Regions from separate parts of the Homo sapiens genome. Here region 2 is linked to region 1. The links come from fine-mapping of genetic effects on gene expression. Tissue or cell type: lung. Region 1 holds a variant in brackets; the other region holds the start of a gene. All regions are shown on one strand. Distances are between the middles of the regions.

What was found. PIP is the estimated chance that this variant, and not a neighbour inherited with it, causes the effect.
Region 2: SENP2 starts here. The variant in region 1 is fine-mapped to the expression of SENP2 in lung (TOPMed, PIP above 0.99).

Annotation. Positions count from the first base shown.
Region 1 is chr3:185,625,496-185,633,601 of GRCh38, forward strand. SENP2 (SUMO specific peptidase 2) reads left to right here. Exons shown (of 17, transcript NM_021627.3): 16 at 803-898; 17 at 4,287-8,056. The coding sequence ends at 4,349. Among named protein-coding and RNA genes, the nearest start is that of SENP2, 43 kb to the left of the region's middle. The variant T/C (reference allele first, on the strand shown) is at 5,068.
Region 2 is chr3:185,581,940-185,590,045 of GRCh38, forward strand. SENP2 (SUMO specific peptidase 2) reads left to right here and starts at 4,356. Exons shown (of 17, transcript NM_021627.3): 1 at 4,356-4,575. The coding sequence starts at 4,475. RefSeq lists enhancers at 550-1,449, 2,595-3,214, 3,215-3,833, 3,834-4,452, 3,946-3,995 and 1 more.

The DNA.
Region 1 (8,106 bases):
AACTTGCGCTAATTGTGACTGACAGCCAGAGTGTGTCAGGGACTGCCAAGATTAGGGCAACACAGGCCTGGAGAAGGTGTGAGCTCAGTGGGGTTAGAATCCACCACCTTTGGCTTATTATGCTCTTAGTGCTGCTTGTACCAAGTGTTTTTGCCTTACGGCAGAACTGATCCATCAAGGCAAGATCCTAATTGGTTAAAGCCTATCCAGAACTTCTCTCTGTCCACCTTGAAGCTGTAGGGTCCAAAGCAGTAGTCTTATTTTCTTAGCTAGAGAAGTTACATTTCCGATTGACCACACTTGGCCCTTTTTAAAATTGATAAATGCTTCTGAAATAATTCTGACTAGCATCCCTGGTAGTAAACCTCCTTTCAGTTTGGTTTCTTGGAATGGGAGCTGAGAGATGCAACTCTCACTTTGTGTTTTTCTCTTCTGAAAAGCATTTCCTGTGGGGTCGGGTCATGCACTCCATCTCATAGTTAGGGTTTCCAATCAAATGCAGAGCCATGGAGAATTAAACAGAAGAACAGAACAGAAAGGAAAAGCAGTATTCACAAGTTACATCTTAGACCTGTGGCTTCAGTTCTCACAAGGCCTGTTTTTCCCTTGCTATGATCTATGTTTTATACCACATAGAGTAAGAATAATTGTGTTTTTTGTATATGACTGTGTGTTTAGGTAATACCTGATTTAATATTTACCTTTATAATATTGTTTACAGCAATATTTAGAAAAAGTCCAAGGAATTTGTATTTAATGATGTTTTACCCTTTCCTCTCTTCTTTTTTCTTTGTAATTTTAGGAGATTCCTCAACAGCTGAATGGGAGTGATTGTGGAATGTTTACTTGTAAATATGCAGATTATATTTCTAGGGACAAACCTATCACATTTACTCAGGTGAGTGAAGACCCTCTTCATCCATTTACTTGTTACTAAGCAAGATAAGGCACTTGGCCAGTGCCTGGCACACATTCAGCTCTCAATAGTAGTAGCTGGCCAGGCGTGGTGGCTCACACCTGTAATCCCAGCACTTTGGGAGGCCGAGGCGGGTGGACCACCTGAGGTCAGGAGTTCAAGACCAGCCTGGCCAACATGGTGAAACCCCATCTCTACTAAAAATACAAAAATTAGCCAGGCGTGGTGGTGCATGCCTATAATCCCAGCTACTCAGGAGACTGAGGCAGGAGAATCACTTGAACCCAGGAGGTGGAGGTTGCAGTGAGCCGAGGTCGCACCAGTGCACTCCAGCCTGGGTGACAGAGCGAGACTCTGTCTCAAAAATAAATAAATAAAATAAATAGTAGTAGCTGGGCTCATGCCTGTAATCCCAGCACTTTGGGAGGCCGAGGCAGGTGGATCACCTGAGGTCAGGAGTTCGAGACCAGCCTGACCAACATGGAGAAACCATGTCTCTACTAAAAATACAAAAAATTAGCCACGTGGTGGTGCATGCCTGTAATCCCAGCTACTAGGGAGGCAGGCTGAGGCAGGAGAATTGCTTGAACCCGGGAGGTGGAGGTTGTGGTGAGCCGAGATCGTGCCATTGCACTTCAGCCGCCTGGGGCAACAGGAGAGAAACCCTGTCTCAAAAAAAAAAAAAAAAAAAAAAAATAGTAGTAGCTGTGCTATTCTTATTGCTGTAAATCTTGGTTTTAGCCCTACTCCTGCCAGAATCAGGGTTATTTTATCTGCTCTCAGGTTTATCCTAGTCTTTGGTGACACAATGGGCACAATTTGCAAATCTCTGAACTGTGGCATTCATTGGTTCCTGTGTATTATTATTTCTAGCCAAAGAAAGAGGTATGTCAGTGTTTAATAGCAAGGGAAAAATCGGCCTGTGAGAACTGAAGCCACAGGTCTAAGATGTAACTTGTGAATACTGCTTTTCCTTTCTGTTCTGCTCTTTTGTGTTTGTTTTGTTTTGTTTTGTTTTTGAGATGGAGTCTCGCTTTGTTGCCCAGGCTGGAGTGCAGTGGCACGATCTCAGCTCACTACAACCTCTGCCTTCTGGGTTCAAGCAATACTCCTGCCTCAGCCTCCCCAGTAGCTGGGACTACAGGCATGCGCCACCATGCCCAGCTAATTTTTGTATTTTTAGCAGAGATGGGGTTTCACCGTGTTGGCCAGGCTGGTCTCGAACTCCTGACCTCGTGATCCACCTGCCTCAGCCTCCCAAAGTGCTGGGATTACAGGCGTGAGCCACCGCGCCTGGCCTGTTCTGCTCTTTTGTTTAATTCTCCATGGCTTTGCATTTGATTGGAAACTCAAGTATGTTGGGAATTCTTGAGAATTTGTAACAGTGGATTCTCAACCTTTTTACAACTGAGGACAACCTCATTAAAGAATATTTTTCATCCACAGACCTTATTTTGATAGATGTTGTCTACCAAGCAAACTGTATGTATTCCATGAATACAAACTGTAATACAAACTCTATTACGTGAAGTAACTAGGACTCCCGTGCTGAATTAATATAATTCCAGTAAAAAATAAAGGCATTTATTGCTTAGTCTCAGCAGTTTTACTAAGAGCAAATGTGCAGTTTTTACTAGATGTTTTGAACTATTTAAAATAATTTAAGAATCATGTGTTAAGACTTTTTAGCCCCCACCCCTAGGGAGGACATCACTAGTTTATTATTATTATTATTATTATTTTGAGATGGAGTCTTGCTCTGTTGCCCAGGCTGGAGTGCAGTGTGGTGTGATCTTGGCTCACTGCAACCTCCCTCTCAGGTTCAAGCGATTCTTCTGCCTCAGCCTCCCCAGTAGCTGGGACTACAGGCATGTACCACCATGCCTGGCTAATTTTTGTATTTTTAGTAGAGACAGGGTTTCACCATATTGGCCAGGCTGGTCTTGAACTCCTGACCTCAGGTGATCCACCTGCCTTGGCCTTCCAAAGTGCTGGGATTACAGGCATGTGCCACCACGCCCGGTGACATCACTAGTTTATAGTAAGGGACATCCAACTATTTATAATGATACATCAGGAGTGCCTCAATAATGTGAACTTCTTTTTTTGTTTGAGACGGAGTTTCGTTCTTGTTGCCCAGGCTGGAGTGCAATGGCGCAATCTCAGCTCACTGCAACCTCCGCCTCCCGGGTTCAAGCAAGTCTTCCGCTTCAGCCTCCCAAGTAACCGTGATTACAGGAATGCGCCACCACCCCTGGCTAATTTTGTATTTTTAGTAGAGACGGGGTTTCTCCATGTTGGTCAGGCTGGTTTCGAACTCCTGGCCTCAGGTGATATGCCCACCTTGGCCTCCCAAAGTGCTGGGATTACAGGCGTGAGCCACCGCGCCTGGCCAAGAATGTGAACTTCCGTATACACTAGAAGGACTAGTTGTACTACGGGTAATTTTGGAGTTGCTTTTTGTGTTGCTGCTTTGCAAATTGCCCATGTAGTGATTCTCAGTTAAAGCAGAATCATTTATTAAGCAAAACATCTCATTGTTTCATGTTGCCAAATAGCAAAGCAGTTGGCTGTTCTCTGAACCTAATAAGATGAGATTTTAAAGGGAGAAGTTGCTGTTTGAACAGAATTGGCAATGTACAACGCCTGGTAGAGCAGAAAGAAACTTGTAGATTTTGTTGTTTTTTATTTAAATAAATACGTTTTTCTCATAAAAAAACAGAATATGTTCATTTTAGAATGTTTTGAAAATTCATATAAGTAGAAAAGTTGCCTATTGTGCCACCACGTGGATATTTGCAGGACTGTGAAGTTGTACTATACTGTATAATTCTACATCCTGCTTTGGTTTTCCTTAACATATAAAAATGCTTATGGTAGGCCGCCTGTGGTGGCTTTTGCCTATAAATAATCTCAGCACTTTGGGATGCTGAGGCGGGCGGATCACCTGCAGTTAGGAGGTCAAGACCAGCCTGGCCAACATGGTGAAACCCTGTCTCTACTAAAAATATAAAAAATAAGCCGGGTGTGCTGGCACATACCTGTAGTCCCAGCTACGCTGGAGACTGAGGGACAAGAATCGCTCGAACCCAGGAGGCAGAGGTTGCAGTGAGCAGATCGCGCCACTGCACTCCAGCCTGGGTGACACAGCAAGACTCCATCTCAAAAAAAAAAAAAAAGTGCTTATGGTACATATCATGTAATTATGAACTGTTAAAAATGGTTTTATAAGTATGTTCCATGATGTAAAAATGTCAACACTTAGAAAAAGCACATGGACATCCTGCTTTATTACATGATTACACCTGAAGGTTGTGCTGCCATGCACATTAATATGTAATGCGGGCGTTGTTTATGGGGTTCTTTGCAGCACCAGATGCCTCTCTTCCGGAAGAAGATGGTGTGGGAAATCCTTCATCAGCAGTTGCTGTGAGAAAACTTTGCCTGGTCCCTCTAGCTGCTGGTGGTTCTTTCACAGACATTTCCATATACCTCATGCATTGTGGGTTAAAAAGTCCCTGCATCACTTCTGTTCTCACAGGTACTGAGCTGTCAAAAGTGCATGAAGGCCTCTCACTGTACTCTAGTCCTGACTTGGGGTGCAGAGGGCTGCTTGCAATCCTGTTTGTAAGGCTGTGCCTGCTCAGAGCTTTGGACTGTTCAACCCACACAAGAACAAACGCTAACTAATATTTTTTTTAAGAGATTCTTTTCCCTATGAATGTGGGAAATGCAGGATTTATTCTGTGAATTGTTTGTTTCTGTGTGTTTGTTCAGCGTATTCATTCACTCACTCGTTTGCAAACATAATGGGCAGTGGTCATTTACTGCTGCTCTTTTACAGTTAGCTCTAAATTACTTGTTTGAACTATTTATTTCTGAAAGGAATGTTACTCAAGCTGCCACTCCCTGCTGAAGAGCAGGAGGGAACTCTCACTGGGGGCGGAAGGAAGTGGAGCTGGAGCAGTAACTGCCAACATGAAGCTGGAGGGTTTGGGATTTTTTTTGTTTTTGTTTTTTTGAGGCTCAAAAAATGCTGGGAGAAATGAAAATGCTGTGGGATAGGGCTCCTGTTGCCTTTCAGAGGAAGTCTGACACTACAGCGTTGGCACAGTGCCGTGAACAGTGGAACTGTGCCCAAGGGACTCTGA[T/C]TATCCAAGCATCTTCCGAAGAGTGTTGTGGTCACCTTAAAGAGACTTCCCCTTCTGGAAATGTGGTGACTTGGCTTAGTCTTCAAACTGGATTCATGGATTTGAAGTAACTGTAAACCCTAAATCTTCATTTTCATCCCAGATCTGGTTGAGTATAAACCTCAGAATTGTAGGGGCTGGCCTGAGCTGTTTATTTCAAAAGATACTATTCAATTTAAAGCTATTTTTCCTCAGAGTTTTTGTTTTCTATATATTAAGTCTAAATTAAGTTTTCTACTCATTAAGACTAACATCTCCCCACTCCATCCCCACTGAAATTTGTGGAAGAAAATTTAGTACTTGGCTCTGAGGTTGCCAGTTATACAATAATCTATTTTGCATATGAAAGTTTGTATTTAACTTTTTTGTTCATTAAAAACCTTACTGATATGGTTATAACTTCAGACAGTTTAGAGTTGGTCAGAACATATTTTGCAAGATCTAGTGCCTAGTGTTGCTTTTCTGATGTAATAAAAGGTGGTCTGGCAGAACCTAAAAAAGTATATGCTGAAATGATTTCTAACCCTCTCCCTACTTAAACCTCCCAGACTTGTTCTGGTTCATAAAAGCAAGAGGTAAAACTGGAAAAATTGTGCACGTGTTACCTATGAATCTACACGCCTGCCATTTGCAGTGCTCCGGCTGCTGGTCCCAGAGGTATACTGGTTACAGCTATTGCAGCCAGTTCCCTGAGACTTGTAAAACTCCTGGTTTAGGACATGGGGCCTGTGGTGTGGATGGAAAATGCTGGGCCTACTGGATGGTCAGCCAGAGGCCATGTGGTGGGTGATGACTGAAGCGGGAGCAGGTTGTACCACACCTCTCCCCCCCCCCTCCCACTCCCCCTCCCTCCCTCTCCCCTCCCCCTCCCTCCCTCCCCCCTCCCTCCCTCCCCCCCCTCCCCCTCCCTCCCCCTCCCTCTCTCCCTAACACCCACCCTCCCCCTTTCCCCCACCCTCCCCCCTTCTCCCCTTTCCCCACCCTCCCTCCCCCCTTCCCCCTCCCCCCCCCCCCCCCGCAGCCCCTGCTCCTTTCTCTGGGCTCCTGGCATTGTGCCAGTGAGTGCTGGGACCAGGTAATGAGCACAGCCAAAAAGGCCAGAGGTTCACTAGGTCAGCATCATACCAAACGCCTGGCTTTCACCAGGCATCAGTGTGCTTCACTTGAGAGTTTGGTACCATGGTTAAGATCGAGTCCATGCTAGGTAAGTCCTGTTAGGAATGTCAGTTTGTATTCCGCCCACGTGAATGATGCTGAGCTTAATGTATTATTTTGAGGGGCTTCTTCAGAGCAGTTCTCACTGAGCTTTCCATTAACCTACACTCTTCCGGACGGCTCTTAAAACTTGCAGGACATAATGAAATTGGGAAGAGCAGAGTGTTGAAGTCTATAGCATGGCCTTCTGCTTGACCCTGAGTTCCTGAATTGAATGTGGGAGACCACAGGCCATACTTCTCTAGGCACTCACATGTCTCCCTTGGCATAAGGAAACATGTTAGTAATATAGTTTTTTAGATCCAAACAGTTTATTTGGATCTAAAAGTTTAAGTGTTCAGTTGAAAAACAGCTATTGATTTTATTAGTAGCAAATTATCACCATTAAAGCCAGTGGTTTTTTTTTTGTTTTTTTTTTTTGTTTTTTTTTTTTTTTTTTGCGACAGAGTCTCTTGTCGCCCAGGCTGGAGTACAATGGTGTGATCTCAGCTCACTGCAACCTCCGCCTCCCAGGTTCAAGCGATTCTCCTGCCTCAGCCTCCTGCGTAGCTGGGATTACAGGTGCCCACCACCACACCCTGCTAATTTTTGTACTTTTAGTAGAGATGGGGTTTCGCCATGTTGGCCAGGCTGGTCTTGAACTGCTGACCTCAGGTGATCCACCCGCCTCGGCCTCCCAAAGTGCTGGTATTACAGTCATGAGCCACCTCACCCAGCCTGTTTTTGAGACGGAGTTTCACTTTTGTCGCCCAGGCTGGAGTGCAATGGCGCTATCTCAGCTCACTGCAACCCCCACCTCCCAGGTTCAAGCGATTCTCCTGCCTCAGCCTCCCGAGTAGCTGGGATTACAGGCATGTGCCACCACCCCTGGCTAATTTTGTATTTTTAGTGGAGACGGGGTTTCTCCATGTTGGTCAGGCTGGTCTTAAACTCCCGACCTCAAGTGATCTGCCCGCCTCGGCCTCCCAAAGTGCTGGGATTACAGGCGTGAGCCATTGCACCTGTCCCTGCCAGTGTGTTTTTAAAATAGTTTAGGGGGTTGAGAAAAGATGCAGTGAGCCATTATTCTCCTTTAGCAGGTAGTCTCTTAAAAATTGATGTGGATTTTAAAAATATACCATTGAGAACACGTATCTTTCTCAAACTTGACCTTGAACAGAGCTGGATGGGGGTGGGAGGGAAACAGATTTGGGGCATATGGAAGATATTCTTGGGAGCCCCATATTCTACCTCAGTTACCGAAGGCTATTAGAACCTCTGAATTTTTCCTCCTCTGAAATCCTAAGCACAACTTCAGAAAACCATGTCTGATAGCGGATGTCTTCCTGCTGTGAGGAGCTGCTTGATGTGGGGACCAAGGTGTGGGTGTGGGCGGAATGTATCCTAGTAGAAACAGTGAACCTCAGATATGAATAAATAAGCAAGAGACCGAAAGTTAAGTGTGTGACAACCTCAGTACTGTAGTTAAGCTACATTCTTTAAATTAGCTTTTGTGAACTGATTGGGAACCTAATCTCTTTTGTAACTGTTTGAGAAAAACTCTGAAGCACCTGATATTCAAACAAACTTATGGTACTTACTAACTCATTTGTAAATTGGCGATGTAGCTGGCTGTAGTATTGCTTTGATAATTTTTTTCTTTTAATTTACCTAATATATATAAGGAAGGGGTTTGGATATATTAAAATAGGTGTTAATTTTATCTATTTACCAATAAATTCATCTCTTTAATTCAGTGGCTTTCACTTGTTTTTTATTGCAACTCATAGGAATAAGTATTTTATG
Region 2 (8,106 bases), 44 kb before region 1:
CTCGTGATCCACCCGCCTCGGCCTCCCAGAGTGCTGGGATTACAGGCGTGAGCTACCGCGCCCAGCCCTCGTCTGGTACTTAAGAAAAACCTGTAATCCCAGCTATTCAGGAGGCTGAGGCAGGGGAATCGTGTGAACCCGGGAGGCGGAGGTTGCAGTGAGCCAAGATCGTGCCACTGCACTCCAGCCTGGGTGACAGAATGAGACTCCGTCTCCAAAAAAAAAAAAAAAAAAAAAAAAAGTACCAGAAGAGTTGGTACCTAGAAAGAAATTAATCTACAGAGTGGTGAATTATGTTGGATTTTAGGCACATTAGGCCTAACCCGACACAACCTCCTCTAGGGGCCCTTACCCTTTCCAACAAATGGCCTAGAATTCTTTTCTGTCCAGGGGTCAGGAAAAACAAAGTTGAGAAGAAGTTTGTTAAAGTTCTCTGAATGCTTTAAAAGGGGAAATTTGCAAGACTAAAGAATGGATTGGAGGGGAGGTAGGTTTGGAGGAAGAAGGGGGTGGGGCCCTGAAAAGGCTTCAAGGAGCTGCTCTGAGCTGAAAGGGGATAAGGATCTTCTTGGAGAACTGGGGCATCTGATTGGAACACCTGCGAAAGCTTAAGCGATGAGGTTGTGCCCCTCTTGCAGTACAAGGCTGCAAATTATCCAAGCCAAGGGCAGAAATCTCAATGTCCTTGTTACTCCATATGGCCTTGGGATTCTCCCATGGCCCTCCAGTAAAGCGCTGCTAGGTCCCGGAAAGGCTGTGGCAGTGGTGGGGTTGGGGTTAAGGATAATCCCACTCCTTGGCCAGTGGATGGACAGTCACCCATGTCTCTACTGTGGACCACAGGACAGCGAAGGCACCAACTGGCAGACAAGTCCCAGGTGGGAGCGAGTATAAGGATGCGTCTCCTTTTCTTCCTTCTAGAGGGTAACTAGGGGGATATGGAGGGAGCATGCACGGTGGGAGGCTGAGGATTGCCACATTCGATTCATGAGTTATTGTTTGCTGATGGGGTCCTGAGATTCTGACTGAGATCTGTAATTCTGAAGCCTTCTCACTCTTCCTGGCAGATGGCCAATGTTTCAGTATTGAGTTTGTAAGGGTGCTATTTATGAGGCAGGAAAAGAAAAAAAAAAATGTGTTGTTGTGTTGCACCGCAGGGCTATCAAGTGTGACCCCAATATATTTCTTTCTTTTTCTTTTTTTTTTTTTTTTTGAGACTATAAATCTCACTCTGTCACTTAGGCTGGAGTGCAGTGGTGAAATCACAACTCACTGCAGCCTTGACTCCCACCTCAGCCTCCCAAGTAGCTGGGACTACAGGCACATGCCACCACTCTTGGCCAATTAAAAAAAAATTTTTTTTAGAGACAGGTCTCCCTGTGTTGCCCAGGCTGGTCTCAAACTCCCTGGCTCAAGTGATCATTCTGCCTGGACCTCCCGAAGTGCTGGGATTACAGGTGTGAGTCACCACACCTAGCTTACCACAGTATTTCTTAAATCTCAGTGGCCAGACCTGGGATAAGTTGCTATTCAAAAGCAGCTTGTAGGTTTTTTGTTTTGTTTTGTTTTGTTTTTGAGACAGAGTCTCGCTCTGTCGCCAGGCTGGAGTGCAGTGGCGTGATCTCGGCTTACTGCAACCTCCGCCTCCCGGGTTCAAGTGATTCTCCTGCCTCAGCCTCCCAAGTAGCTGGGATTACGGGCACGCGCCACCACGCCCAGTTAATTTTTAGTAGAGATGGGGTTTCACCATGTTGGCCAGGATGGTCTCGATCTCTTGACCTCGTGATCCGCCTGCCGCGGCCTCCCAAAGTGCTGGGATTACAGGCATGAACCACCGTGCCTGGCAGAGCTTGTAGTTTTCTGATTTATGTGTGTGTGTGTTTTTTAACTTGGAAAAAAAAATTGTTCTCTTAGGATGTATGATTCGTGTTTAAATGAAGACTGCTCTTTTATTTGGGAGAATCCTCTCCCAGTACTTGAGCGGGCTTCTTGGTTTGGCAAAGGCAAAGCCCAACTCTCAATAGTGAGTGGAAGGGACAGACGTAACTGAACTGCTTTGCACAATAATGCCAATGACTGTCTTTTGTTAATAGGAGTCCTGACTCTTGATTACATTTACGGGGAGTCCAGCCTGAAATAGTCGGGGTAGAGGTAGAGGGAAAAGTCCCTTCTGTTGGCAGCTTGCCAAAGGTGTTACGAGTAAAGGGATGGCCTTGAGGTGAAGGGAATTCCTTTGCGAGACAATAGGCCAGGGACTATAGATGCTACATAATCTAATAGCCACTTCTAAGTCTTCTCAGCTTTGTAATGCCCCAAACTTTCAGCAACAGCCTGGTTGGTGTTTGCTATGCTTAGGGGAATAAGGGAGGCGGGTGTGTCCACACTTAGGATTTGCTTCCATCCTCTAGGATATGACCCCAGCCCCCGAGGCCAGAGTGGTGGTAGCTTCAGGTGTGTGGCTGGTGATTCTGAAGCTCTAGGGGGTGGCTTGCAGCACAATTCTGGAATGCTACATATATATATATATATATATATATATATATATATATATATATATACACACATACACACACACACACACACATACACACACACATGTATTTATTTTATTTATTTATTTTTTGAGACAGAGTCTTGCTCTGTTGCCTAGGCTGGAGTGCAGTGGTGCAATCTCCGCTTACTGCAACCTCCACCTCCCAGGTTCAAGCGATTCTCCTGCCTCAGCCTTCCAAGTAGCTGGGATTACAGGAGTGTACTACCATGCCTGGCTAATTTTTGTATTTTTTTTTTTAGTAGAGATGGGGTTGTCTCACCATGTTGGCCAGGCTGGTCTTGAACTCCTGTCCTCAAGTGATCCGCCTGCCTTGGCATCCCAAAATGCTGGGATTACAGGCGTGTGCCACCACACCCGGCCTGGAATGCTGTCTATTGAGGAAAGGAAGAGGCTGTACTGGGGAGTGCCAGCGTTGAAGTTCAAGCAAGTGTAAAACTCTGGCCTTAACTGAATCACAAGTAGGAAACAAGTTAATCAGGAATGGATTTGTGGGGCATGAAAACCTTTGAGGATTCTTAGGATTGTTTGGAAGAGGGGACTGGATTTTCTATCACTAAATAGGGTGGGATTTGTTTTACAGTTGATAATTTTTTGATGGGGTGCGTCAGGGTCCCACTCTGTCACCCTGGCTGGAGTGCAGTGGCGTGATCACGACTCACTGCAGTCTCAACCTCCTGGGCTCAAGTGATCGTCTCACCTCAGCCTACCAAGTAGTTGGGACTACAGGTGCGTGCCACCACACCCGGCTAATTTTTGTATTTTTTGTAAAGATGGGGTTTTACTATGTTGCACAGACTGGTCTCAAACTCCTGGGCTCAAGCTATCTGCCCACCTCAGCCTCCCAAAGTGCTGGGATTAAAGGCAGGAGCCACCGCGCCCGGCCTATAGTTGACAATTAACTAGAAGTGTGACATTGGAATTATAGAGGGAGAGTAACGAGACTCATTACTTACTAGCCCAGGGTAGGAGACATTAGTGGGCCGCAGGTTTCATCCTTAAATTTCTGTGAAGCCTTTCTTGAGGACATCTGCCCTTTCCTTCTCTCCCTCAGTGTGTGGTTTTCCTTTCTCTGGCTCCCACTGCACTCTGCACATACCTTTATCACAGCAACCACTTACGGTGTATTGTAATTTGTAATTATCTATGTACATGTCTCCAAGTAGACTGACCTCAAGGGCGAGGGACTGGCGCTGGTACTCAGACCCCGGGTTCAAGTTCCAGCCACGTCTCTAGCTAGTTTTGTGATCTTAGACAAATAACTTAATCGCTCTATGCCTCAATTTCCTTGACTTATAAAACTGGCTTAAGACTCTCTGTCACACGCCATTGCTGGGCATATTAAGGTGACAATGCGTGAAAAGTACGAGGCAAAAGGTAAGTGCAAAATAAAGGGCGCCTAAAACGGTAAACGTGTGTTAATTAACCTGATCTACCTTTACATGTGCATTCAGCAAACACTGAGCACCTAATGTCCTCTGGGACCCCGGAACGCCTCCTCCGGAGTGGAGCAGCCTCACATGTGGCCTGTGGGCCTTGTCCCACGGGCCGGCTCCGGATTGGCTCCGCCGAAGAGAAAACCCTGCCGACAGCCCTTCCGATCTCGTCAGCGATTGGGCCGGGACCGTCCCACAATTACTCTTGTTGCTGGGCTCGGAAATAGGGAGCGGTGCTAGGTTGCGCGTGCGCAGATTGAGAATGGAGCTTTCCGGTCGGGCGGGAGGAGGTGACGTCAGGAGTGGTGGCGGGCGGGGGCCTCTGGTAGCCCTGGGGACGCTGTATCTGTGGGCTCTTGAATCGCGTCACAAATCAGCGACCGAACTCTGGCGGTGGTGGTTAAGACGGCGAAGGCGGCAGCGGCGGCGACAGCTCTGGGGTTTGCGTCTCGGGGTGTGTCGGCCGCCGCTGCTGCTTGGGCCTGGTATGTACAGATGGCTGGTTAGGATTCTCGGCACCATTTTCCGTTTCTGCGACCGGTCGGTGCCCCCTGCCCGGGCCCTCCTGAAGAGGCGGCGCTCAGACAGGTGAGACGAGAGGGGGCTGAGCGCCAGCCTGGCCTTACCCCCTCCCCCACAGCGGGCTCCTCGGCCGTGATAGCTTTGATTCAGCCAGGCTCACCCGAAACAGGTCGCCGGGATCCTAGTGACGTAGTCGCTCCCGCCAGGCTGTAGGGAGGCAGCTCCTGATGAAGGAGGAGCTGGTCGTCTTCGTAGCGGCCGGTGATGGCAGGGTCTTTGACATTCTTGTCAGAGGCCAAGCTGGTTGCTGATAACAAATGGGGCTTTGCCGCTCTTAGGCTGAACACTAACATTGAAGGAATACTGTCTTTGTTGTGGCTCACTGTTTACAAAGCACCCTCGCAAGTGTCATCTGCAGACATTAAGTGCAGTTGAAGTGAGATTCATAGCTTGCCCAAAGCCGTTTTGACTGCAAGTACTGTCCTTGCAGCAAGAAACAGCACCTGTTTTGTTCCAAAACAGCTGTCAAACAGTCTGTGTGTTTGGGGCCAGAAGGGTTTTGTGCTTTAGAATTAGTGAATGAGTAAAAAGGCTTAGGTGCCTCACTCCTTTAAAACAATCACTAGTCTGTACTCTTAAATTCGGTTAAAATTTGGGGGAAACGCAAAGCTATTCTTTTCTTTTTTTCTTTTTCTTTTGGTTGAGACGGAGTCTTGCTCTGTCGCCCAGGCTGGAGTGCAGTGGTGCGATCTCGGCTTACCGCAACCTCCGCCTCCTGGGTTCAAGCGATTCCCCTGCCTCAGCCTCCCAAGTAGCTGGGATTGCAGGTGTGCACCACCACGCCTGGCTAATTTTTGTGTTTTTAGTAGAGATGGGGTTTCACTATATTGGCTAGGCTGGCCTTGAACTCCTGACCTCAAGTGATCCGCCCACCCCAGCCTTTGGAAGTGCTGGGACTGCAGGCATGAGCCACTGCACTCAGCCCCAAAAGCTATTCTTATTTAGCATCTACTCTTTGGAGTGTCCCATTTTATTGTATCGACCTCCTTACCTAAAAATCTGGAAAATAAAATACTATACAAATTCTATGCCCCCTCTTCAACTTTAGTGATCAAGTGTTAATTTTTTTTTTTTTTGAGAAGGAGTCTCGCTCTGTCCCCCAGGCTGGAGTGCAGTGGCGCAATCTCGGCTCACTGCAAGCTCTGCCTCCGGGAGTCACGCCATTCTCCTGCCTCAGCCTCCCCAGTAGCTGGGACTACAGGCGCCCGCCACCATGCCCGGCTATTTTTTTTTTTTTTTTTTTTGAGACAGAGTCTCATTTTGTTGCCCAGGCTGAAGTGCGGTGGCACGATCTCAGCTCACTGCAACCTCTGCCCACTGGGTTCAGGCGATTCTTCTGCCTCAGCCTCCGGAATAGCTGGGATTACAGGCGCCTGCCACTGCACCCGGCTTATATTTTTTGTATTTTTTTTAGTAGAGACGGGGTTTCACCATCTTGGCCAGGCTAGTCTTGAACTCCTGACCTCGTGATCCACCCGCCTCAGCCTCCCAAAGTGCTGGGATTACAGGCCTGAGCCACAGCGCCCGGCCACTACCGGCTAATTTTTTTTTTTTTTTTTTTTTTTTTGAGGCGGAGTCTCGCTCTGTCGCCCAGGCTGGAGTGCAATGGCGCGATCTCGGCTCACTGCAACCTCCGCCTTCCAGGTTCACGCCTTTCTCCTGCCTCAGCCTCCCGAGTAGCTGGGACTACAGGCGCCCGCCACCACGCCCAGCTAATTTTTTGTATTTTTAGTAGAGACGGGGTTTCACCGTGGTCTCGATCTCCTGACCTCAGGATCCGCCCGTCTCGGTCTCCCAGAGTGCTGGGATTACAGGCGTGAGCCACCGCGCCCGGCCCTCGCCCGACTAATTTTTTGTATTTTTTAGTAGAGACGGGGTTTCACCGTGTTAGCCAGGATGGTCTGGATCTCCTGACCTCGTGATCCACCCGCCTCGGCCTCCCAAAATGCTGGGACTACAGACGTGAGCCACCGGGCCCGGCCGTTAATTTCATTTTTTAAATTAAGCCTCAATATCAAGAAAAGTGGAAGAAGTGTTCATTTGTGGGAGCTTGAGAGAACAAGATGTCTAATACATTAGTCTGAGAATGCAGGTTATTGATGAGATTGGTTGTTGGCTAAATTGCATCGTGTGTTCCAGAGATACATGGTTTTGCCTTATTTTTCTCTCCTATCTTTCCGTTGGGTTGATATAAGGATCATTTGAGAACGTGGTGTAAAGTGCCTAAACTGATGCTTAATGTATATAAGGGTAGTATTTGTCTGTCCTACTCTGGGGCCTTTTGCAGAGTCTGGTGCATGATAAGCACTTGGTCCCTATTTATGGAATAAGGGAAAGCTAATTTCCTCTCCCTTGTCCTCTCCTTGATGTGAATCCCTGCTAGTCAGTGGAACATGGTTTGGCGATCAAAACCTTGATCTTTACTATACTTTAGGTGTTCACATCCTTAATCCAAAACAACACTTCTCAGTGTAAACCAATTTTCAGTCAAAATGAAGCCCGGCAGGGCTTGTTGGAATGTATAAAGTTATGAGCTGAATGGAATCCTGGGATCTCATTCTATTCATTTTTTTTTTTTGCATGTGTGAATATAATTGATCATAAGGGTTCAGAGAGATGATGAGTAATATACTATGACCCTTTAGCATTCTTGACATCTGGGTCCTGAAACTTTCCTCAATTCCAAAGTTCTTTATTACCATCATAATGTAGTTTGCGTGATAAAAATGAAGTTAAATATAACACTTGATTAAGATTTGTCTTTTTTAAGTTGTAGAACAGTTTTTTTTAACTCCCTTACACACACACAAAAGAAAAAACAGTAAAAAAGAATTGTCTTTTAAGGCTGTTCATATTAATACTGTCACCTAAAGTAAAAGATGGCTTTCTTTGGGGATCATTTTCAAAAGGAAATTGCTTGTTTGTTGTTTTTAAATCATTTCTGGAGCGAAAGAGAAAATACTGTCCTAAACTCTTACCTGGGTTCATTTACTAGCTAAGTGACTTTGGCCAGTTTTAAGTTTGTACTTTAACCAGATGGCAAATTATTATTTGGTAAGAAGTTTGTTTCTCTCTCAAATAGTTGAAACTGTAGCAGTAAGTCTTCGCATGTGAAAAGCCTACTATAGAATAGCATTCTCTCTTTTGTTTTGCTTTTATTTTTAGTTTTATTTCTTTTTAAAACAAGGTCTCACTCTTTTGATTAGGCTGGAGTGCAGTGGCATGACCTGGGCTCACTGCAGCCTTACTTCCTGGGCTCAAGTGATCCTCCTGCCTTAGTGTAGCTGGGACCACACTCACTTACCACCAAGGCTGGCTAATTTTTTATTTATTTTTTTATCGTAGAGATGAGGTCTTACTTTGTTGCCCAGGCTGATGTCAAACTCCAAGGCTCAAGCGATCCTCCCCCTTGGCCTCCCAAAGTGCTGGGATTACAGGCACGAGCCACTGTGTCCCACCAGCATTCTCTTTTAAAACATCAGTTGGATCTCATTTTATGACAAAGTGATAGAAGGGGGATGTGTTATATGAATAGTA